7 linked regions of the Homo sapiens genome follow. The protein of the gene in region 1 purifies or fractionates together with the protein of each later gene. This does not show direct contact. Each region holds a gene or a part of one and is shown in the gene's direction. Other genes may lie near its edges.

Region 1 (3,500 bases):
GGGTGTGGTGGCTCATGCCTGTAATTCCAGCACTTTGGGAGGCTGAGGCAGGCGGATCACCTGAGGTCAGGAGTTCGAGACCAGCCTGGCTAACATGGTGAAACCCCGTTTCTACTAAAAATACAAAAAATTAGCCAGGTGTGGTGGTGCACGCCTGTAATCCCAGCTACTTGGGAGGCTGAGGCAGGAGAATCACTTGAACCAGGGAGCTGGAGGCTGCAGTGAGCCAAGATTGTGCCATTGCACTCCAGCCTGGGCAACAAGAGTGAAACTCTGTCTCAAAAAAAAAAAAAGCAAAAAGGAAACACTTCTCTTTCTCCCCCTGTATATTTGAGTGTTGTCAGTGAGCATTAGTGTATTCTGACTTTATAGATGATGATCCGTAACTGCCATTCATTTTAATATTCAAATTGCCCCAGATTTGGTTAGTGGGAGCCCCTTCAAGCTGGCTTCTGTGGCCTTTGGACATACCCCATCACTTTTTGGGAGTACTTCCTCACTTTCTGGCACACGAAGATAGTCTGGGTAATCTGGACCTTGTTCTGCCCCATCCCTGGGGTTGGCCATTTTTCTGAGGAGTCCCGGTTCTTTCTAGGGAAGAGTAGGTGTTGAGGCACTAAGAGACCGTTTTCTTTTTTTTTTTTTTTTTGAGACGGAGTCTCGCTTTGTCACCCAGGCTAAAGTGCTGGAGTGCAGTGGCATGATCTCGGCTCACTGCAAGCTCCGCCTCCCAGGTTCACGCCGTTCTCCTGCCTCAGCCTCCCGAGTAGCTGGGACTACAGGCACCTGCCACCACGCCCGGCTAATTTTTTGTATTTTTAGTAGAGACGGGGTTTTGCCGTGTTAGCCAGGATGGTCTCGATCTCCTGACCTCGTGATCCGCCCACCTCGGCCTCCCACAGTGCTGGGATTACAGGCGTGAACCACCAGCCTGGCACTAAGAGACTCTGTTGCTACTTGGGTGTCATTGCTTTGAGGCCCTTCCTCTGGAGAGAGCTAGGAAGCACACATATTTTATATGTTTTAAAATTCTATTTATGTTTTGTAGAGATGGGGTCTTACTATGTTGTCCAGGCTGCTCTCAAACTCTTGGGCTCAGGTGATTCTCCTGCCTTGGCCTCACAAAGTATTGGGATTACAGGCATGAGCCACTGCGCCTGGCTGACATATTTTACAATAGTGAGTTCACATTGATACCTCTGATTCCATTCCAATATCACCAGCTTTTTCCTGAGCATTCCTCATTTCATCTTTCTTTCTTTCTTTCTTTCTTTTTTTTTTTCTTTTGAGATGGAGTCTCACTCTTGTTGCCCAGGCTAGGGTGCAATGGCACGATCTCGGCTCACCACAACCTCCGCCTCCCGGATTCAAGCTATTCTTCTGCCTCATTGTCCCAAGTAGCTGGGATTACAGGCATGCACCACCACGCCTGGTTAATTTTTTGTATTTTTAGTAGAGACAGGGTTTCTCCATGTTGGTCAGGCTGGTCTCAAACTCCCGACCTCAGGTGATCCTCCCGTCTTGGCCTCCCAAAGTGCTGGGATTACAGTCGTGAGCCACCGCGCCTGGCCCTAATTTTGTATTTTTAATAGAGATGGAGTTTCTCTATGTTGGCCAGGCTGGTCTCGAACTCCCAAGCTCAGGTGATCTGCCCGCCTCGTCCTCCCAAACTGCTGGGATTATGGGCCTGAGCCACCGCACCTGGCCCTATTATTATTTTTAAATAAAGTTCACTTGCTTCCATTTGCATTCAGTTTTAGTTTTCTCTCCTCTCTTTATTGATTTAATTTCCTTTATGAATATGTAAAACATTAACAAGGTTCTCAAATCAAACTATTCCAAAAGGTCTCCTAGGGAAACGTCATTTCCTCTCCATCTCCTCCACCTCATTTCCACCCAGTCCCCGTAGGTTACTAAATATTTTCTTAGTTTCTGCTTATCTACAGAAAGAGCCTTTTGATCCAGCTTATCAATTTGACTTCACACCTCTTTAAAATCCCTTTCATGGGCAGTCGCTAATGAGGAGGGTCCACATTTGGAAGGCTCAAGAGCTTTACTCCTTATTGGAGAAGCACGGGGCCAAAAGGAAAGACTTCGAGCAATGGGGTTGTAAGAAGTGGCACTGATTTTTTTCTCCTCCCCCCACAGGAGATCCACCACCTGCATCACCTGGTCAGCACCCTTATCCTCTCCTCCACCTCTGCCTACGCCGTCAGGTAGAGACTGCGGGTATCCTGGGATGGCGGGACCCAGATGACTCAGGACGCACCTTTCCATAAGGCAGTGATGGGAAGGTTCAGGACTCATGAAACACGTCAGAACCTATTTTTTCTCCCATAATATCCCCTTTTTCTCTCTCCCCGCCACCAGTTCCCCACCTCCACTGGCAAGGTCCTGTTCTGTCTTTTTTTTTGAGACAGAGTCTGGCTCTGTCGCCCAGGCTACAGTGCAGTTGCGCTATCTTGGCTCACTGCAACCTCTACCTCCCAGGTTCAAACAATTCTCCTGCCTCAGCCTCCCGAGTAGCTGGGATTACAGGTGCCCGGCACCGTGGCTGGCTAATTTTTGTATTTTTAGTAGAGATGGGGTTTCACCATCTTGACCAGGCTGGTCTTGAACTCCTGAGCTCATGATCTACCCGCCTCTGCCTCCCAAAGTGCTGGGATTACAGGCATGAGCCATTGCACCCCACCGGCCCTGTTCTTTTTCTTGGGCATGTAAATTAACCTCTACTGACCCCATCTAGCACATAAGAATGTATCTACTGGCTGGGCGAGGTGGCTCACGCCTGTAATCCCAACACTTTGGGAGGCCAAGGCAGGCAGATTGCTTGAGCTCAGGAGTTCGAGACCAGCCTGGCCAACATGGTGAAATCCCATCTCTACCAAAAATATAAAAACTTAGCTGGGCATGGTGGCGGGTGTCTGTGGTCCCAGCTACTTGGGAGGCTGAGGTGGGAGGATTGCTTGAGCCCTGGGGGCGGAGGTTGCAGTGAGCCGAGATTGCACCACTGCATTCCAGCCTGGGCAACAGAGTGAGACTCCGTCTCAGGAGAAAAAAAAAAAAAAAGCGCATCTAGCACATATATAGTGCAGCAGGGTTCCTGGAAGCATCTGGCGAATTTGTTATTCGTCAGCATTGGTTGCAAGGGACAGAGATCCTCTCGGGCCACCTTCAGATAGAGGCACACTGTAAGGAGTTGAGGAGCTGAAGCTGCTTTAGGTGTTGGCTTCTCTCTCCCTCTCTGGGGCTCTCATGAGCTCCATGCTCTCTCTCTCACTCCATCCCTGTCTCTTTCTCAGCTTCGCCCTCTTCTTTTGCTCCAAATGCTTTCTTACCTTCTACTAAGTTCTTCTCTGGCTTCTGTTTTCTCATGGTCCCTGATCGACATCAGCTGTGGCCTGGGTCGGCCTTAGGGTCTCTGTGATTTCTCTCTTTCTCTCTCTCTGTTAAAACAAACGTGGCAAAATTCACCATTTTAAAGCGTAGAATGTAGCAGC
Region 2 (3,500 bases), on another chromosome or scaffold:
GCATTGGCACCAAAAGTCCATTGCCACCTTGGGTGTACCTTGTACCTGCCTGGTCTCTGGTCGGCCTGCATACAATCAGAGATCAGAGAATAAGGCCACCCACGCCCGGTCTCCGCCCTCACCTAAATCTGAATAGAGTTGGGAGGATGTTAGGGTAGCCGGTTGGTGCTGATTCTGGAAAATGGGAAGACATAATTGTTTAACCCTTCTGTGCTGTGGCCCTCTGCTCCGGAAGACATGCTTTTAAAGCCCCATTTCCCTCTCCTGAAAAATGTGAAGGGTAAAGCAAAATGTGGACTAGGAGAAACCAAGTGACCTGTCTTCTCATCTAGTCGACTGACTTGACTCATGAATAAGAGCCCTTACTCAGATAGCGTTTTTTAAACCAGCAGTTCCCATAGGAAGGGTTCCTGCCTGTTAAAGAGCTGCAGCATGTGTTTGTGCAAGGCACTGTCCCTTCCTGGTCAGTCACTGGAAAGAGCCATGTGGCTCCAGCCCATTGAGACCTTAGCTGGGGAGTGGAAGAGGTGGGTGGCCTTGAATGTTACACCACATGGTTGGAGCTCTGGGTTTTCCTTTGTTTCAGAGTACAGAGGGAGGGGCCCCTCCTTTCCCTGCACCAGTGCAAGGAGACCTTTTCCTATCAGAGAGGACTTGGGAAGGGCCATGGCTCCCCTCTAATGATTGCTGGGGGGTGGGGGTAGGTGTAGAGTTTGAAATGGGCAGCTCCCTTATCTCTTGGAAGGTTGGAAGGTAGTCTGAAGTCCTCATTGTACCTACAGGATCTTTTTTATGTCATTAGTTTGGTCAGTGCTGGAGGTGCCCTAAGGGGCCTTCTATCCACTTGGCTGCAAATATTGGTAGGTTTATTACAGAGATGGGGGAGTTGACTGATTGATAGCTTCAGTTGAACTGGGATTGAGAGAGGTGTGGTTGTGAGTTATTATTGAGGTCTTGGCCTCTTGTCACTGTTCATAATCCAGGCTTGTTTTTGTAAACAATAGGCCACTGGCCTCCATGTCCTGTCCAGATGCATTGCATTTGCTCTTGGAATCCCCCCTGCAGTTTTAACCAGATATGTCTTTTTTTTTTTTTTTTTTTAACACATCCTATTCTTAAACTGTTGCCATCGGGAGTGTTAATAACTTTGATCTTCCCAGATTTCTCTCCAGAAGCACGCCATTTGACTAAGGTGCAAAGTGACTTTAAATGTTTAATTTTTGGAAGGTTCAAGGCTGATAGGTGTTAATAGAACCATATCTGCCAATTTCTTATTGGCAAAGGATTTCTCAAGAGTGTCTCAAAATTAAACACTTTGGATATTTACAAACATTGCTCATTGAGATGATGTAATGCAGTCGGCTATTTGGGTTCTCTCTTCAACCTTGCCACAAACAGACTATTTTGCTTTGCTCTGATATTTTCCCATTGATACTATTCAGGATCATAGAATTTTATAGGTGGCTGAGCATGATGTCTTACTCCGAGAAGGTGCCTGATGAATGCTTATGGAACTGATTTGAATAGTTTAGTCCTTCATTTTACAGCTGAGGAGAATACAGAGAACTGAAGAGGCTTGTCCAAGGTCACACGGCTAGATGGTGGCAGATCTGAAACTAGAAGCAGATTTACCAACTCTCAATTCTCTATTCTGTATCTTTACTATGAAACATCATCTGACCAGGGTGGAAAAAAATAAAAAATTCTTAAGGAGCCCAAATCTGTCAATGAATAATAATAGTAATAATGATAATGATAATAGATTACATTTTGGTTGCTCATTATGTTCCAGTCCATCCCAAGTGCTTTAAATGAATGGTCTGGTTTAATCCTTACCTCAACCCAGGAAATGGGTATTATTGTCACCTTCCATTCACCATATAAGGAAACTGAGGCTTAGAGAGGATGAGAAGCCCTTCCAAGGTCACACAGCCAAACCATGGCAGCTTGACTTCATTCCTTTATTCATTAACTATTTATTGAGTGCTTGCTGTGTGTTCTGGTGATTGGCCATACAGCTGTGAAGAAGAAAAAGTCTCTACCCTCATGGAGCTTATATTCTGGAAGCTGGGCTCTCTATGGAACAGCACAGAATTTGGAGACAAAGGGCCTGCGATCTGGTTTGGCTCTGCCCCCGACTAGCTAGAAGCCCTGGGTCAGAATTATTATGAGTGTCAGCTTTTTGTGTGTTATATGGGACTCATGGTGCTGCCAGACTTACTTCTCTTACAGATGCCAAGATAAAAAGAAAATTGCTGTAACAGCTATGCAGTTTGGTTTGGTTGTTAAGTGCAATTTTTAGAGTCAAAGTGATTCAGGTTTAAATCTTGGTTCTGACAGTAGCTAGCCTTTCACTTCAGGCAAGTTACATGACTTGTCTGAGCCTCAGTTTCCTTATTTGGAAAATAGGTAAAATAAAATACATTTCCTAAGATAGTAGTGAGTTGTTGATGAGATATATAAATTATTTAGAACAGTATCTTGCACTTGTAAGTGCTCAATAATGGTACGGTCTACTTCTCTGTGAGCCTTTCTTTTGCTGAATTGGGCTGACTATTGAGGCTGCATTGCATATTCACTCCCAAAGTGCCAGCTATTAAATGATAGGAAATAAGTAAGGAATGAAACTTAAGTTCTAGCTTAAGATCATTTAGTTGTAACAAAACATCTTGGGTCAGTCACTTAAACCCTCTGGACATCAGTTTCTTTTTCTGTCAGTGAACAAGTAAACTAATTATTGGCCACTGTGGTTCGGCCTGTCTTTGACCAGAGTCCCAGGTCCTGTTTTTTCAATCAGAATTGTTTGAGTCAAATGGACTCTAAATGGGACCCTCATCTCATGGGACTTTCTGGGACCCTCCCTATCCCTTGATTTTTGCCTCCCTATAAACCACCTGCTTGCATGTGCCCTGAGGAACTCCTGAGGCTTCAGCCCCAACCCTACCCCAGAGTGGTTTTATGAGGGGTGTGCCTCCTTAGTCAGCCTGCCTTGTAGTGTCTTCTTAAAAACCATCATTGTTTCTGGTTTGTGGGTGCCCAGATTCCTTGGAAAGTTCATGCCTCTCAATGTCTGACTTGAAAGCAATAATATTCTTAGTCTTTTTACATAGCTCTTTCCAATTTACATTATGCTTTCATATGTAGTTGTCCGTCAGTATCCTCAGGGGATTGGTTCAAGGACTACCCCCACTTCCCCCAGGATACCAAAATCTGCAGATGCTCAAGTCCCTGATAACTAATGGTGTGGTATTTGCGTATAACCTATGTACACACGTCCTTCTGTATACTTTAAATCATCTCTAGATTACTTATAATACCTAATACAGTGTAAATGCTATGTAAATAGTTATACTGCTTTTAAAATTTGTATTATTTTAAATTGTTGTATTGGTATTTTTATTGTTTTTTTTTTTTTCTTGAATATTTTCCATTCCCATTTGGTTGAATCTGCAGATATGGAACCTGCAGGTATGGGGAGGGCTGATGTACATTAATCTCTG
Region 3 (2,545 bases), 900 kb from region 1:
AGGCTGGAGTGCAGTGGCACGATCTCAGCTCACTGCAACCTCCACCTCCTGGGTTCAAGCGATTCTCCTGCCTCAGCCTCCCCAGTAGCTGGGATTACAGGTGCCCACCACCACGCCTGGCTAATTTTTGTATTTTTAGTAGAGATGGGGCTTCACCATGTTAGCCAGGCTGGTCTCGAACTCCTGACCTGAGGTGATCCGCCCACTCCGGCCTCCCAAAGTGCTGGGACTACAGGCGTGACCAAACGCCCTTGGCTCTAACCTGACTTCTAATCGCATCCTGTAACCTCTGACTTTAGTGATCTTGACTTCTGTCTGCTGCTATAGACTGAACAATTATTGCCTGGCATCTAACCTTCGTCCTTGCCCCTGGCTGGGCCCTGACCTCAAGTGACCTTTGACCTCTGGCCTTTGCAGTTACACATTCGGCAAAGTACAGGGCAACAGCGATCTCTACTGGAAGGCGCAGCGTTACCGCCTCATCCGGGAATTCCACTCTCGGCCCGCGCTGGCCCCGCCCTTTATCGTCATCTCCCACTTGCGCCTCCTGCTCAGGCAATTGTGCAGGCGACCCCGGAGCCCCCAGCCGTCCTCCCCGGCCCTCGAGCATTTCCGTAAGAACAGAGCTTGGCTTAAAAAGGAGAAATATAGGGGACCGGGAGCCTGGAAGGCGAGGGGAAGGGGGCATGCCCCAAATGACTAACGGGCGTGGCTTAGGTAGCGAGGGGCGGGGTTTAAGCAACAAGGGGCGGAGCTTAAGCACTGAGGGGCAGTGCTTACGGGTGAGGGGCGGGGCATGTTCTCGAATCACCAGGGGCTGGGTCTGGGATAGCGTGCGTGTTCTGAGGGTGTCGGAAGGGGCAGCTGGGATTGGGAAGGGGCGTGGCCTGAGCCCTTTGACTCCGCCCGCCCCTGCAGGGGTTTACCTTTCTAAGGAAGCCGAGCGGAAGCTGCTAACGTGGGAATCGGTGCATAAGGAGAACTTTCTGCTGGCACGCGCTAGGGACAAGCGGGAGAGCGACTCCGAGCGTCTGAAGCGCACGTCCCAGAAGTGAGAGCGGGGCCTGGTCGGGGATGGGGCTTCTGGCCTGGGGCGGATCCTGACTTCAGCTGAAGGCAGGGTCCTGGGAGGGAGGGAGAGAGGGAGGAGGCCCGGGAAGCAGGCAGAGCCCTGGGGGTGGGTGGGCTGCGGGTGCCCCCGGTAAGAGGCCCTCCCTTCTCAGGGTGGACTTGGCACTGAAACAGCTGGGACACATCCGCGAGTACGAACAGCGCCTGAAAGTGCTGGAGCGGGAGGTGAGGCCTTGGGGCCTGGCTGGGGGACTGTGGCAGGGGTCCCATCTCCCGCTCTGACATTCCTCCCATTCCGCAGGTCCAGCAGTGTAGCCGCGTCCTGGGGTGGGTGGCCGAGGCCCTGAGCCGCTCTGCCTTGCTGCCCCCAGGTGGGCCGCCACCCCCTGACCTGCCTGGGTCCAAAGGTCAGTGTGTAGCATCAGCCTGTGCATCTCCAGCCTCTGTTCCTGTATTTTTGCGTGTTTTTCTCTCTCGGCACCTTTCCAGTGTCCCTGGGTCACTCTCTTGGTCTCCTTTGAGCCTTTTGTACTCTCGCCTTCGTCTTTCTTCTTTTTTGCCAGTCTCCCAGTTTTTCTGTCTCTCCCCTTCCCTGCCAATCACCTGCTCTCTCTTTTCTCTCTTCCCCCAGACTGAGCCCTGCTGGCGGACTTCAAGGAGAAGCCCCCACAGGGGATTTTGCTCCTAGAGTAAGGCTCATCTGGGCCTCGGCCCCCGCACCTGGTGGCCTTGTCCTTGAGGTGAGCCCCATGTCCATCTGGGCCACTGTCAGGACCACCTTTGGGAGTGTCATCCTTACAAACCACAGCATGCCCGGCTCCTCCCAGAACCAGTCCCAGCCTGGGAGGATCAAGGCCTGGATCCCGGGCCGTTATCCATCTGGAGGCTGCAGGGTCCTTGGGGTAACAGGGACCACAGACCCCTCACCACTCACAGATTCCTCACACTGGGGAAATAAAGCCATTTCAGAGGAATCGTGTCCGGAGGCTTGATTCCTGGGGGAGCTGGTGGGTGTCTAGATCCAGGATGGGAGCTGGAGCTGGGGTGTTGGGTTTGGGGTTCTTGGTGGATTTGCTGCTGTAATTCAGATATTTTGGAGTCCGTTTCCTCCCTTGAGCCCCATTGTTCTTGCCGGAGACCCAGCACTTCTGTCTGCACTGTTCTGACGGCTCTCGCTTCAGTAGGACAAGACCCCATCTGTACCCCCTCCCACCCAGTTTCAACTTTCCAGTGGAAAAATAACTCAGTGATAATAAGCAAATTATTTCCTGGAATGGAGGTGGGTGGGTGTTGTGTACATCTGCTTTGGCAATAGGGAAACGGATGATGCAAATTTGAGTAGATAAATGCATACGTGTCTTTAAAAAGTCTAATTAGTGGGAAATTGCAGGCCAGGCGCACACAGGGTTGAGGCAAATATGTGTGATTATACATGCAGCTTAACTAAATAACCCATAACAAGCTAAACTGGTAA
Region 4 (3,500 bases), on another chromosome or scaffold:
TTTCTTTCTCTAATCTGATGCATATCATTTTCTTCCTTTCTTGTTCCCAGGGATCTCTCAATGCTATTTGCCTTCATTAGCTTGCTCGTTATGCTTCCCACTTGGTGGATTGTGTCTTCCTGGCTGGTATGGGGAGTGATTCTATTTGTGTATCTGGTCATAAGAGCTTTGAGATTATGGAGGACAGCCAAACTACAAGTGACCCTAAAAAAATACAGCGTTCATTTGGAAGATATGGCCACAAACAGCCGAGCTTTTACTAACCTCGTGAGAAAAGCTTTACGTCTCATTCAAGAAACCGAAGTGATTTCCAGAGGATTTACACTGTGAGTTCATTTTTTATTTTATTTCTTAAATGATTATTTTCTATTCCATAAAGGAGAATATTTATTACCTATTTTCATTTCTATGTTGCATTTATAGGAAAAAAAAGTGCTTTTCTCTTTAGTACTTACTAAAGTCAATTAACTGCTAAGTGAAGGAATAAATACATTATGTGCTAGATTTAATATGTAGTATGATTCTGCCTATCTGCTTTGAGGAACTAAAGTACTTTGGAGATCATGATTATTTCTGTATGTTACCATGTGATTATATGAGATAATATATAGAGAGTGTCTGATACTGAACCTAACGTGCAGTAGTTACCCAGTAAATGCTTGCTCCCATTACTCCCTTTCAAATGCCTTCTTTATGATAGACGTATCTGCTATAAATGCATTTTGAAAACTCTTGACATGTACTAATAACTGTTCAGGTAAATATTAGCAGATATTATAGCACTGATACTCTCAGAATATCATGCAAATAGTGATGTTTTCCATTCTTACAGGAAATTAAATATTCACCAGTCTAGCTGTAAGTATATTAAGCTGTAGGATATATTGACTACTTAATCTATTATTAAAGGGAAAGTTACATTTATTGAGCACCAACTATATTCCATATACTATGCTAGTCACTTTTGCATACAACTAAAGGCATAGAATTATAAATGGTAAATATTCATATCCATTCCATCTGATTCTAAACCCGGCTTGCAGTACACTGGACACCTGCCAAACACTAACAGATGACAGTTGTGTGCTAGTATATTTAATAATTTATATAACCTATATAACTTTTGCAATCTATAGGTGGGGGAAAGTAAGCATATGGTGAAGAACATTCATAGCTCTTAATTAGTCGTATCTAGAAAATCATGAAAAGAGGGAGTGAAGAACCTCTGGTAGCCATCGCATCCTTCACTCTGTTCTGCTCTAGAACATTACACAATCTTGAGATAAACACTGTTTCTAAAAAATCATGGAATAGAGAAATGGAAGAATCCCAGTAGTTATCTTGTTCTTTACTCTCTTGTGTTCTACACACAATCCCAAGACATAAGATGGATTTTATAATTTCTCTTTCTTCTCAATCAAAGTATAAAAGTCAGCCAGGCACAATGGCTCACACCCGTAATCCCAGCACTTTGGGAGGTCGAGGCATGAGGATCACTTGAGCCCAGGAGTTCAAGACTAGCCTAGGCAATCTAGCAAAACCCCATCTCTACAAATAATAAAAAATTAGCCAGACGTGGTGGCACACACCTGTAGTCCCAGCTACTCGGGAGGCTGAGGTGTGAGGATTGCTTAAACCCCAGGAGGTTGAGGCTGTAGTGAGCCAAGATTGTGCCACTGCACTCCAGTTTGGGCAACAGAACTGGAGACAACAGATTCTGTCTAGGTTGGGCAACAGACTTGGTCTCAAAAAAAAAAGTATAAAAGTTCTTAGCATCTGTTGATTTTTGTCGTTGCATTAGTTGAAGTCTACTTCTTATTGACTTAAAGGATAGCACGTTTTTAAGTTGTTTAAGTGTCAAATTTTAAAAGTTTAAAAAAATCATGCTTAAAATAAGTAATATTTCCGGCCGGGCACGGTGGCCCACACCTGTAATCCCAGCACTTTGGGAGGCCGAGGCGGGCGGATCACGAGGTCAGGAGATCGTAGCTATCCTGGCTAACACGGTGAAACCCCGTCTCTACTAAAAATACAAAAAGAAATTAGCCGGGCGTGGTGGCGGGTGCCTGTAGACCCAGCTACCCGGGAGGCTGAGGCAGGAGAATGGCATGAACCCGGGAGGCAGAGCTTGCAGTGAGCCGAGATCGCGCTACTGCACTCCAGCCTGGACGACAGAGCGAGACTCCGTTTCAAAAACAAAAAAAAAGTAATAGTTCCTTTTTATTTTATTGAGAGGACTTACTGGTTGAACAAAGTGGCTTTGTTCAACTAATGGTTAGGCGTGTATAGAGGATTCTGTGCCTTGTGTCATTTTCCAACTTTATCTGTCCCCATGGAATTTGCACGAAGAGGTAAAGTGGGCCAGTTAGACATGATTTACCTTCCAGATTATGACTTCTACCCATTCAGATGACAGACGAAGAGAAGTATTGGAAGAAATTGTGCTTCCTTTGTCTCTATCTAACTGGATAATGGGTTGAAAAATGAATAATAAGTCTTGAATCATAATTTTTTAGACATTTTCAAAATTAGACAGTTTTTAAAACTGATTTAGTAAAATGGAGCACAAGCAGTAGTGCCATATATTGAAATCATGAATGCTGTTTTGTTTCTGACTCAAATTGTCCTCTCTCACAAATAATTGAAACCTTTTTTGCCTTCATTCCCTTGTCTTAACATAAGCCTGTCAGTCATCATCCTCTGCTTTTTATAGATTTTTTAAAATTTGGTTTTTATAGATTTTTAATACCTGAATACATTTTAGTATGGTTTAACATTTTTAAAGTTTTGAGTTAGGTGTGTTGTTTTATAGCTTTGTGTTATAGTATAAGCAATTTACAAATGCCAATATTTTGTTTTACTGTTGGGAAAGATTACTGGTTAGGTGAAAAAATTTATCTGATAACCAGGTATTTACTCATATATACTGTAAGTTATGAAATGTAATACATTGTATGTCATTGTTACAAATTAGGTACTCCCCATTAATCTTATGGGAAGTGCCATGAAATGTGCTTCCTCTTGAACAGCTTTGAGAGTAGCTATGCTACTATGCAGTAACCCTTACTTTGCCTTTCTACTTGTATTCCCCTGTTGGCCACTGGTCCTGTTATCTTTCCACGTCCCCTACTTCATTTTGAGTAGGTAAGTGCCAGTGGCAGCAGGTGGGTAAGTAATTTTACCCTACTTTTATGAATGTACAGAATGTATTTCTATACAGTATTTTTTCTGTACAAGTGACCAAAATATGATCAGTGAACATATGTGATGAACGTATGTAAATGTATATTAAGAATTTAAAAGTGTTTATAATTAAGGTCTTCATACTTCCTATGGATATAGGTTTTGAAAACTGAATATAAAGTAGCTCTTCTCTAATATATGTTAGCAAGCATAGTGTCTATGTAAAAAAGATGTGGATTCTTAATAAATATTTCTACATTTCTGTTATATCTCAGCCAGAATCCATTGTTTCCCCACATCAGAGGAAGCCTTTGCTC
Region 5 (2,451 bases), on another chromosome or scaffold:
GACATTATTTGCTTATATTGTAGAGTGGTTCTAAAATATAGATTTTACATTGAGAAATTTTAATACTCTCTTTTTTCTTTTTTTTTTCTTTGTTTTACTTTCTAAAGATGAGGAAGAAAATGCTTCCCGTTCTTCTGGATGAGCATCCTATCTTCGTAGTTGGTTTGGACTTCGATAGGTTGATGGAAGGAATACTTCTATTAACCAAATAGAATCTGTTTACAAAAATGGTTCGTGTGTGTTACCATTATTCTTTTGTCAAAAAGTGTGTATATATGTTTGCATTTACATATATTTGTACATCTGTATGACAGATGTATTTTAAAAGTTTCAACTTGAAGTAAAAGTACAACAGCTTGAAGTGTTGATACCAGGCCACAGCCCTCTAACTCATGTGATCTCCCATGCATGCTGCCAGAATAAAACCACCAGGAATGAATTCACTCCCCACTTCTCTGGAACCTCAGGACCCGCCCATTTCTCGGCAGTACTGTGAATTTTGAAGTTAAACTAAATTTTGGTACCATACCAACTGGAATTTAGGCTTTAAAAATAATGTTTCAAGGCCAGGTGTGGTGATTCATGCCTGAAATCCCACTACTTTGGGAGGCTGAGGCTGGAGAATCGCTTGAGGCTAGTGAGCTGTGATTGTACCACTGCACTCCAGCTCGGGGAACAGAGCGAGACCTTGTCTCTAAAAATAATAATAGTAATAAAAATAACGTTTTATGACTATTTATTGCAAGGTCAGATTTACAGATTGTTATAAATTGTTGAGAAATTTTTGTGATTAGAATATGAAGGAAAAAGCTTTGTTGGTAAAAGTGACATGTTAAGGGGCTATGAAGTAAATATGCTGCAGTTAATTGTGCTAAGTTAAAATACAGTTTAGTTATTTGCTTTAAAATAAACTCTTCTTTTTTTCTTTAAAGTATACTACCTCAAAACTCATTATGTTGTCAGAGCCCTAGAGCTGGCTAGTGTAACACTGACTATGAGTAGGTGGGCCCACCACTTGAGTTGAGGTGATTTCATGGTGTCTTTCCAGGCTCTTGATAGGGTGTCACTGCATGCAAGCCATGAATCTGTTTTGAGAATCCTCTCCATTTTCCCAAATAAAAACCTATCCCAACAGTGACTATATCACTCAGCATTGGATCTAAATATAAAAGTGGTGCTTTCAGTGTTTTTGGCAGATAGTGTTCCATAACCTTTCCATCAGAAGGGATTTTAGACACCTTAGAGGTCCGTGCTACATCTTCACAGTTCCTCCGAATAACCTTAGGTGGTAGTGTTACTTGCCTTTGACACCTGTGCATATGTTTTAATGACTAGATCCAAACTGTGTTGTTCTTAAATCAAAAATTGGATAATTTTTAATATTTATGTATTAATCACACAGTGTGCTCTCTGAAGTTCTCTTAAGCCTTCAGTTTATACTCTTAATTTTCTTTCTGAGCTGGGGAACTGACTTTGCACTTTGGTTACACAGAACATTGGTTTCCAATTTAGTTTAACTGAAATTTGCTGCTGATATGTTGAGTTTGTTCTTTAAAAAATATCTCATATATCTCGTCTTTCCTCCTTAGAAGAACAGACCTAACTAGCGAATGTATGAATGAAAATGCATCTATTTCAGAGCCGACATGAAGAGTTTAGTTTTTTTACTTTATAAACTGTGAATATGAGTATGCCAGCTGCATTAGATGTAACTAATCATATTTAAATATATTTCACTTTGACTTTAGACCTTTTGAAGTCTGTATAAACTTGTTTTGAAATACAGTCTCCACTTACGAATGTCATAACAAAATACTTTTTTGCATGATAAAAAATTACTTTGATTACAAAAGGCATATTCTTTCATGGTTTCTGCAATGAGAGGAAGTGTAATGATTATTTTAATATTTCTATTAAAACTGTATATTTTTATGGCTGCTCTTTTATGTTACCCACTGTCTCTTTGGGGTTGTTAATTGGTTTCTGAAAGGGAACTTCAAACTCCTTTACTACTGGCCTTCCATGGTTGGTCCCTATTAGGTTGTTGTGAGAACGTCGACCAACTCTTTGATACCCGCCAGGTAGACCGTAGTACCTGCCATGTCTGACACCCTGCATCCAGCTAAAACCAGAAACAGCGCTGGGCCTCCCTGTGGACAAGACATTGATTTGACCAGAAGCAGATGTCTGGCTAAGGCTGCCAACCAAAGGGTGGCCTTAGATGAAGGGCTTTGTTCAGTTAGGGGCAGAGGTCATTAATTTTTTTTTTTTTTTTTGAGACAGAGTCTTGCTCTGTCGCCCAGGCGTGAGTGCAATGGCGCGATCTCGGCTCACTGCAAGCTCTGCCTCCCAGGTTCACGCCATTCTCCTGCCTCAGCCTCCTAAGTAGCTGGGACTACAGGCGCCGGCCACCATGCCCGGCTAATTTTTTGTATTTTTACTAGAGACAGG
Region 6 (3,500 bases), on another chromosome or scaffold:
GTAAAATCATTTTTAAGCCTTTCAAAGCTGTTAGCTTTACTAGTCCAAATAGTTACTGAAATGAATTCTTCATAGCAATTTGCCAGATCCTCCCCACTTATAAAGATAAATGTTAATGTCAATATTTATTCTTGTGTGTATCCGGGAGTGTGTCTTGCTTCATTATTTCTACATGGAGGAAAGGACCTGGACAGACTGCTTGTATCAAGTCAGTGGTTGTCAGGTGCTCCCTCAGACTTGACACACTTTCAAAAAAGGAACAGGTAACACAAACCTAAACTTTCAAGAGCCTGTTTCATTGCAAATTGACTGATGCAGCAGTTAGTCATTTTCATCTCCAAATAATATTCCTGGGACCATTAGACCATAGAAATGAGCCTTCATTTGGAAAATATGCTTGTAGTAGCCACAGCATAAAAACAGAGATTAAACGTTACCATTAATATGGCTCTTTTTACCTTTTACATTTTATGAACTTCATTCTTAGGCACCTGTACATTTAACTTTGTTTTACAGGTACACTTGGCTTAAAGAAAGTTATTTGTAAATAGTGTCTTATTTGTCCCTTACTGGGGTTCCAGATTGCTTATTAAAAACCTGATGATGTACTAGAACCTCCTCTTATTTGTTTAAAAAAAAAAAGTGTGAACTATACTCAGATGGTCTCTGTTCTCCTCTTCCCCTTTCCTCCTTAATTTTGTTTTTCTTTTTGTTTCATCTTCTTTCCCTGGGCTCTCTCCCCTACCAGCTTATTTGCATTCTGCTCCAGCTGGTTCTTGAGTCACTTTCCTGGAGGCAGCACTTCAAGTCCAATTAGAGTGGCAGCCGAGCAGGAGATGGCCAAAACGAGAGTGCTGTAGGAGAGAGGCTTGTTTTTGTTTTTTATTTTAATATGTTCCCTTATGGGTCCTGAAAGATGGAAAGTATTGTCCTTTAACCCTTGCTACTGCCGCTAACACCTGCTCAAAATGCATAGCATCCAGAGGCAGGGGTGAGCTTCCACCTTTCAAAAAACTGCATTATTCAAAATGTTATTTGGCATCCTTTTTTCTTAAGACATGTTGTCTAATAAGCCAAACTTTTCTGGGTCCCTTCCCTTAAGGTAAATTAAACTCATCAGTCATTATTACTAACTTATGCTCAAAGGCCTCTTGTTTCCTGTTTTTTAAACATAGAAGAAGCATTTACACACACAGCATTTACTCACTGTTAAGCCCTGCAGTGACATTTGGTTGCAGCAGGCAGTGTGGTATTGAAAAGCAGATTCCTTTGTTCACCCCTGTACAGTGTGTCCCAGTTTCAAAACATCCTGACACTCACCTTGGGGATGGCTCCAGTCCTGTGGATCATGGGTACAGAAAAGACAGGCGGAGGCACTATCATAATTAATCATATCTGTGATCATTATCTTTGGCAAATATTGTTCTACTGTTATGTCATGGTCTCCCCCACCCACTTTTTAAATTAAAATTAAAATTTCAAGGTTTTATTTCGTTTGGTTTGGTTTCTTGCCACAATTGCAATTATTTGTTGTACCTCAGCTTTTAGCATCACATTTGGTTGAAAGTGTTTTTCGAGGGTCAGTCAAAACATTTAAATAGCATTACTCTAACATTTATATTCATGACAGGCATCAACTGGGGACTAGAGGGCTTTTCAACTGCCTTATTACTGAAAGTTCTATCAATTCATATTCAAAATTAAAGCCATTGAGGTCACTGAAATCAAAAATACACAAATACTCCATGGGTTTAAAAACTGTTCTTGTGATAAAAGTGCCTGCCATTCTAGCATAAATAACAAAAAGAGCTCAAGAAGGGACCTATAGACCAGGTTTGGGAATACTAGTTATTTGCCGTAAAGTCCAATTGCAAAGAGAGATAATGACGTATTTTCAGGATTTCTTTAAGAATCCTAACTTCTCCTCACTGGCACCAGTGCAGGAAAGAGAAAGTAGTTGCAGGGTGCCATCTGGAGGGATCATGGTGAGGGAAGTACCTGACATCCAGCCCCCTTAGGAATCCAGGTCATGGGCACGAGGTGGTTTCCTACAGGTAATTAATTCCCCACTGTGACCACATGGTCTCAGTGCCTACACTGATCACACAGCAGTTCTGAAATCACTAAGCCTGTCCACGACACTGGGGTTCTGCTGATTCTGAATCTCACTGGGATCTTGCCCACAGTGTCCTCTGAAGCACATACTCCCCCTCCACCCCTCAGTTTATTTTCTTAGCTGAAGGAAAGAGTGGCTATTGAAGTTGGTATTAAATTATTTAGTGGTACTTCTAGCAATTTCTATTTATAGGTCTTCTGGTGCCCTTTAAGCATACATTTATATCTATTTCACTTTGTGCCTAAAAATATTAATTTAGAAAAGAAAACAAGACAATCAAAATTCTAATTTTTGTTCTAATTCCTATTGCCTTTTCTTCTCCTGAACAATGTCAGGGCAGGAGTACCCTAGGAGTATCCAAAGAAGTCCTGTGGTTAACCAAATGTCTGTGGTAGGGAAGGAACAGCTATGTAATTAGTTCACCGTGCCTGCAGCTGACCGCTCATTCTCTCCAAACGGGGGCTGGAGAGAAGCAGTTGCACATGCCACTTTTGTATCCGCTGCTAATGGCAGAGTCACCTCCTCTTACCACAACACTCTTGCCCTTTAAAACATGGCCTTTATTGTTTAATGGAATTCTGGAAGAAGAAAATGATTTACAATATCCTAGAGGTCCTTTATGGATAAAAAAATTTTATTTTAAACATTAAACATTTTGAAATTGTCCTGCGGCATAGAAATCTTTTGCATAATCATACATTTTCCAGCCATTCGAGGTCATATTTTCTCATATCGTAACTTTTTCCTAGCCATTTATTTGTTTTAACATTTGGTCCTGCTCAAGTGCTAAGGCAAAGGTTGTCTTTGAAGACAGTGATTCCACTAGAGTAGTTGAGAAATTGACAAAAACACTTCGTGAAAAATATATAATTTCAGTATGTAAAAAACCATTATATAGAGAGAGGTATTTGAATGGAATTATATCAAAGATACAGTGATAATCACATTTTTCCTTTGTGCTCAGTGTAAAGTAAGTGACACATATGGAAAGAAAACAGAAATTCCTACCCAGTGAATAAATGAAACAGGTTCCAAAGAACAGCCTATCACCTACTGTCTTTTGAGTTGGGCACACTGGCTCACAGCTGTTCTGTTTTGCATTGTTGGCAAGAATCCTTTTTCTTCCTTACATTTTTATCTTTATATTTATTTATGATTCTTCATTTTATAGTTTCCCAGCCATATAAGGTTTCCTTCTAGGACATGCAGTATGCAATCCATGTCTTTAATATGTTATGAGAGAAATTAACCTGGTTACTGTTCATCCTCAAGACCATCCCAAGGAAGCTTCTCCAACTCTCTCGACACTGAGGTCATAAGTTTGACATAGCACTTATCATTTTGCTTAATAAGAATCATTATGTGTGTATGTATGTGTGTTTAT
Region 7 (3,500 bases), on another chromosome or scaffold:
AGCTAATTTTTGTATGTTTTGTAGAGATGGGGTCTTGCCATGTTGCCCAGGCTGGTCTCAAACTCCTGGGCTCAAGCAATCTGCCTGCCTTGGCCTCCAAAAGTGCTGGGATTACAGGCATGAGACATGGCTTGTGGCCACTAATGCTCTATTTTTGTCACTCACTCACTGCATCTTTCTCCAGGGCCGCCTCTGCTCCAGGCACTGTCCTGGGTGCTTCTACCCTTGGCCAAACCAGCACATTGGCTTCTGTTCATGTGCTGCTTGCTTTTTGTCATCTGACAGGATGTCAGCTAGGCTTTTCAGCAAGGGTCATAATACATGTGATGTGACGATATGTTAAAAGTCCAGCCTGCAAATGCCTGTCACCCTATTTCCATCCCACTGCTGGGCACACCACGCACATCTGGTGCTCATCTCAGGGGAGTCAAGGAATTCCAGGCTGGTTTTCCTAGCCATGAACATGTTAGCTACCGTAGTCAGTGTGTAATTTCATGAGATCTGAAATATAAGATTGCCCTAGTTTTCTGCTTACAATCTGGTTCTTGTGCCTGGGTGCAGGTTTCCATCGTGTGGGAAGAACGGAGTAACGAGTCTCACGCAGAAAAAGGTCTTGAGAGCACCTTGTGGCGCACCCAGTGTAACTGTGACGGTAGGTGATGCACTCACGTAGCAGCCCTCTTTGGTCACCTTGCTAAAAATGCTTTTGCACACCGTTTCTAGGAGGTGCCTTACCCTGCTGGGCACCATCGCCGCCCAGTTGCTCTGCTAGGTGCTGTTATACATACTCTGCTGATTTTTAATTATGATCATCATTTTTGCCTGTGGTGAGGCTGCCGGGTGTGAGGAAATTGTCTTAGACTTATTCTTCCAGCCAAATCCTAAAATCTTGAGATTTTTAAAATAAAGGAAAAGAAAAAGAAGAGAAAAAAAAAGTTTAAAGAATGAGGGGAAGGATAAGAGCTGGTGGTGGTTGAGGGGTTTGTAGCTGTGGTTCTGCCTTGCTCATGTTTTCTTTAGAATCTAGACAGCCTTCTCATCCTTAGGATTTCCTTCAGCTTTCTGTTTTCCTGTTCTTTGATCTGCCTGCTCTCTGATTTATTCTGCACCCTGAGCATTTTGTGTGTTTCCCACGCCAATCTGCATGCCCAGTTGAGATCACTGTGTAGAAGGATCCGCCTGCTTTCCGCTGTGCTTCACTAAATCCAAGGAGGAGCTGTGCATTCCAGCAGGTTTAGAGGAGATCCAGCCCTAAGAACCCTGGGGCCGGCGTCTGGGATCTGTTCTGGAACGGGTGGGTCTTGCAGACCCTCTCTTGAGTGGACCAGAATCTCCCTTGTGGTCTTCTGCTGGGATCTCTGCAGGAGCCTGCTGAATGATACTCCCGCCTTACTCCCTGCCTGCATGCCAGTAGTTGGTAGCTGTCCTGCTCGCTTGGTGGCTAGGCTTTTTGGTGGCCCCCAGAGGCTGTGAGCTCTGTTTTTATGCCCAGTTTACTCATCCACAGATCAACCATTTTTGTGTTGTCCTCCCCCACCTGCCAGAAGCCAACCATGAAGGACCGCTCTTCAACTCCCCCCTTACATGTTCACGTGGATGAGAACACCCCTGTCCACGTCCACATAAAAAAACTCCCGAAACCATCAGCGACCAGCAGCCAGGTAGGAGCATGCCAGTGGGGCGAGGTAGTAGCTGTGGATCTGGGTGATCCTGCTAAGCCCAGCCTCCTCGCACTCTGACTCCAAAGGTTTGGGAGACAAACACACTCTTTCGGAGGCCGGTTTCCTGGTTAGAAGGTAGGCAGGCCTGTCATCCAGGAGCAACAGCAGTAACATTAGTCAGAAGAGGCACTCTGCTAGTCGGAGAGGGATGTCACTAGCGTGGCACCGTGGCCAGCTGGGTGTGGAAGTGACCCTGGGTTTGTCCCTTTCCACAGAAATCTCACAAGCGAGGAATGAAAGGGGACACTGTGAATGTGCGGCGGAGTGTCCGGGTGAAAACCAAGGTACCTTGGATGCCCCCTGGAAAATCATCTGCCCGGCCTGTGGGATGCAAGTGGGAGGTAGGCTCACCCTTGCCCAGGCTTTTCTTCTCGGACTGCTCAGATCCTAGCAGGCCTCAGCCTCGGTATGATTCAGGGTCAGCTATAGCTACTGGAATGTCCTAACAGACCCCATTTACTGAGGGCCTTGCTAAACCCTGAAACTATGTGAATCTTCTTGAGTTCTTATGATACTGCTGTGTGGGAAGTCCTGCTGTCCAAAGGCAGAGATGAGGAACCAGACCTCAGAGAGAAGTGATTTTCCCAGAGTCACAGAGAAGTTAGCAGAGCTGGAGTTAAGATTCATTCTAGAGGCAGTACTCTTAGCCTCTCTGCTTTGCTTGTGAGGAGCCACATCACATGTATTTTCTTTTCTTTTCTTTTCTTTTTGAGACAGAGCCTTGCTCTGTCGCCCAGGCTGGAGTGCAGTGGCATGATCTTGGCTCATTGCAACCTCTGCCTCCCAGGTTCAAGTGATTCTCCAGCCTCAGCCTCCCTAGTAGCTGGGACTACAGGCGCCCGCCACCACTTACGTCTGATTTTTAAATTTTTAGTAGAGATGGGGTTTCATCGTGTTGGCCAGGCTGGTCTCGAACTCCTGACCTCAGGTGATCCGCCCGCCTCGGCCTCCCAAGGTGTTGGGATTACAGGCGTGAGCCACCACAGCCAGCCTATTTTTCTTATAGTTTATTACATTAGAAATCTTTCATACCAGCAGTGAAAAGAAAAAAAAATAGAAATGAAAAACAAAAGTAACTCCTTGAAGTTTATAGTCATACCTCATAAAACTATGTCAAAACTGACTCCTTGATTTACCAGACAAAGGAGACTCCTTTCCCTTAGAGACAAAGGGAGTATGGGGCTTTCTTAGGATTAAATGGAAACTGCTCTGACCAGTACAATAAATTAAAAGGATTGAAATTAGACTGCTGCCTTACATTTTTTACTACATATACTTCACTAATAATCAGTGAAATGTAAATTAAAAGCCACAGTATATTTTTTTTAAAACAAAAACAATGAGCTTTTTTCTTGAATGGAAAAAGTTTAAAAAATGACAACTATCTCCTGCCAGCAAGCATATGGGATATCAATGAATCTTTTTTTTTTTTTTCCGAAATGGAGTTTCGCTCTTGTTGCCCTTGCCCAGGCTGGAGTGCAGTGGCGCGATCTTGGCTCACCACAACCTCCGCCTCCTGGGTCAAGCGATTCTCCTGCCTCAGCCTGCTGAGTAGCTAGGATTACAGGCATGCACCACCATCCCGGCTAGTTTTGTATTTTTAGTAGAGATAGGGTTTGTCCATGTTGGTCAGGCTGGTCTCGAACTCCCGACCTCAGGTGATCAGCCCACCTCAGCCTCCCAAAGTGCTGGGATTACAGGTGTGAGCCACCACACCCGGCCCGAATCTTTTAAAACGTTTTTTATAGGACTGTGAACCTGATTCAGCTGTTCTGGAGT

Evidence for each region.
Region 2: the proteins of ODAD1 (region 1) and SRGAP2 purify together in Homo sapiens (affinity purification with mass spectrometry; one large-scale study listed by BioGRID and IntAct). This does not show direct contact.
Region 3: the proteins of ODAD1 (region 1) and TRPM4 purify together in Homo sapiens (affinity purification with mass spectrometry; one large-scale study listed by BioGRID and IntAct). This does not show direct contact.
Region 4: the proteins of ODAD1 (region 1) and VEZT purify together in Homo sapiens (affinity purification with mass spectrometry; one large-scale study listed by BioGRID and IntAct). This does not show direct contact.
Region 5: the proteins of ODAD1 (region 1) and RGPD5 purify together in Homo sapiens (affinity purification with mass spectrometry, with the first as the bait; one large-scale study listed by BioGRID). This does not show direct contact.
Region 6: the proteins of ODAD1 (region 1) and COG5 purify together in Homo sapiens (affinity purification with mass spectrometry; one large-scale study listed by BioGRID and IntAct). This does not show direct contact.
Region 7: the proteins of ODAD1 (region 1) and ODF2 purify together in Homo sapiens (affinity purification with mass spectrometry; one large-scale study listed by BioGRID and IntAct). This does not show direct contact.

The regions. Positions count from the first base shown.
Region 1 is NC_000019.10:48,304,972-48,308,471, reverse strand, and holds part of ODAD1 (outer dynein arm-docking complex subunit 1), read left to right. Parts: intron 1-2,148; coding exon 2,149-2,216; intron 2,217-3,500. UniProt on the Homo sapiens protein: Component of the outer dynein arm-docking complex (ODA-DC) that mediates outer dynein arms (ODA) binding onto the doublet microtubule. Involved in mediating assembly of both ODAs and their axonemal docking complex onto ciliary microtubules.
Region 2 is NC_000001.11:206,206,541-206,210,040, forward strand, and holds part of SRGAP2 (SLIT-ROBO Rho GTPase-activating protein 2), read left to right. Parts: intron 1-3,500. UniProt on the Homo sapiens protein: Postsynaptic RAC1 GTPase activating protein (GAP) that plays a key role in neuronal morphogenesis and migration mainly during development of the cerebral cortex. Regulates excitatory and inhibitory synapse maturation and density in cortical pyramidal neurons.
Region 3 is NC_000019.10:49,209,792-49,212,336, forward strand, and holds the end of TRPM4 (transient receptor potential cation channel subfamily M member 4), read left to right. Parts: intron 1-417; coding exon 418-614; intron 615-918; coding exon 919-1,051; intron 1,052-1,223; coding exon 1,224-1,296; intron 1,297-1,372; coding exon 1,373-1,478; intron 1,479-1,702; coding exon 1,703-1,707; 3' UTR 1,708-2,045; downstream 2,046-2,545. UniProt on the Homo sapiens protein: Calcium-activated selective cation channel that mediates membrane depolarization. While it is activated by increase in intracellular Ca(2+), it is impermeable to it.
Region 4 is NC_000012.12:95,266,307-95,269,806, forward strand, and holds part of VEZT (vezatin), read left to right. Parts: intron 1-50; coding exon 51-326; intron 327-3,500. UniProt on the Homo sapiens protein: Plays a pivotal role in the establishment of adherens junctions and their maintenance in adult life.
Region 5 is NC_000002.12:109,855,755-109,858,205, forward strand, and holds the end of RGPD5 (RANBP2-like and GRIP domain-containing protein 5/6), read left to right. Parts: intron 1-107; coding exon 108-142; 3' UTR 143-1,951; downstream 1,952-2,451.
Region 6 is NC_000007.14:107,231,921-107,235,420, reverse strand, and holds part of COG5 (conserved oligomeric Golgi complex subunit 5), read left to right. Parts: intron 1-1,208; exon of another isoform or gene 1,209-1,339; intron 1,340-3,500.
Region 7 is NC_000009.12:128,459,006-128,462,505, forward strand, and holds part of ODF2 (outer dense fiber protein 2), read left to right. Parts: intron 1-561; coding exon 562-652; intron 653-1,152; exon of another isoform or gene 1,153-1,294; intron 1,295-1,507; exon of another isoform or gene 1,508-1,544; coding exon 1,545-1,661; intron 1,662-1,936; coding exon 1,937-2,062; intron 2,063-3,500. UniProt on the Homo sapiens protein: Seems to be a major component of sperm tail outer dense fibers (ODF).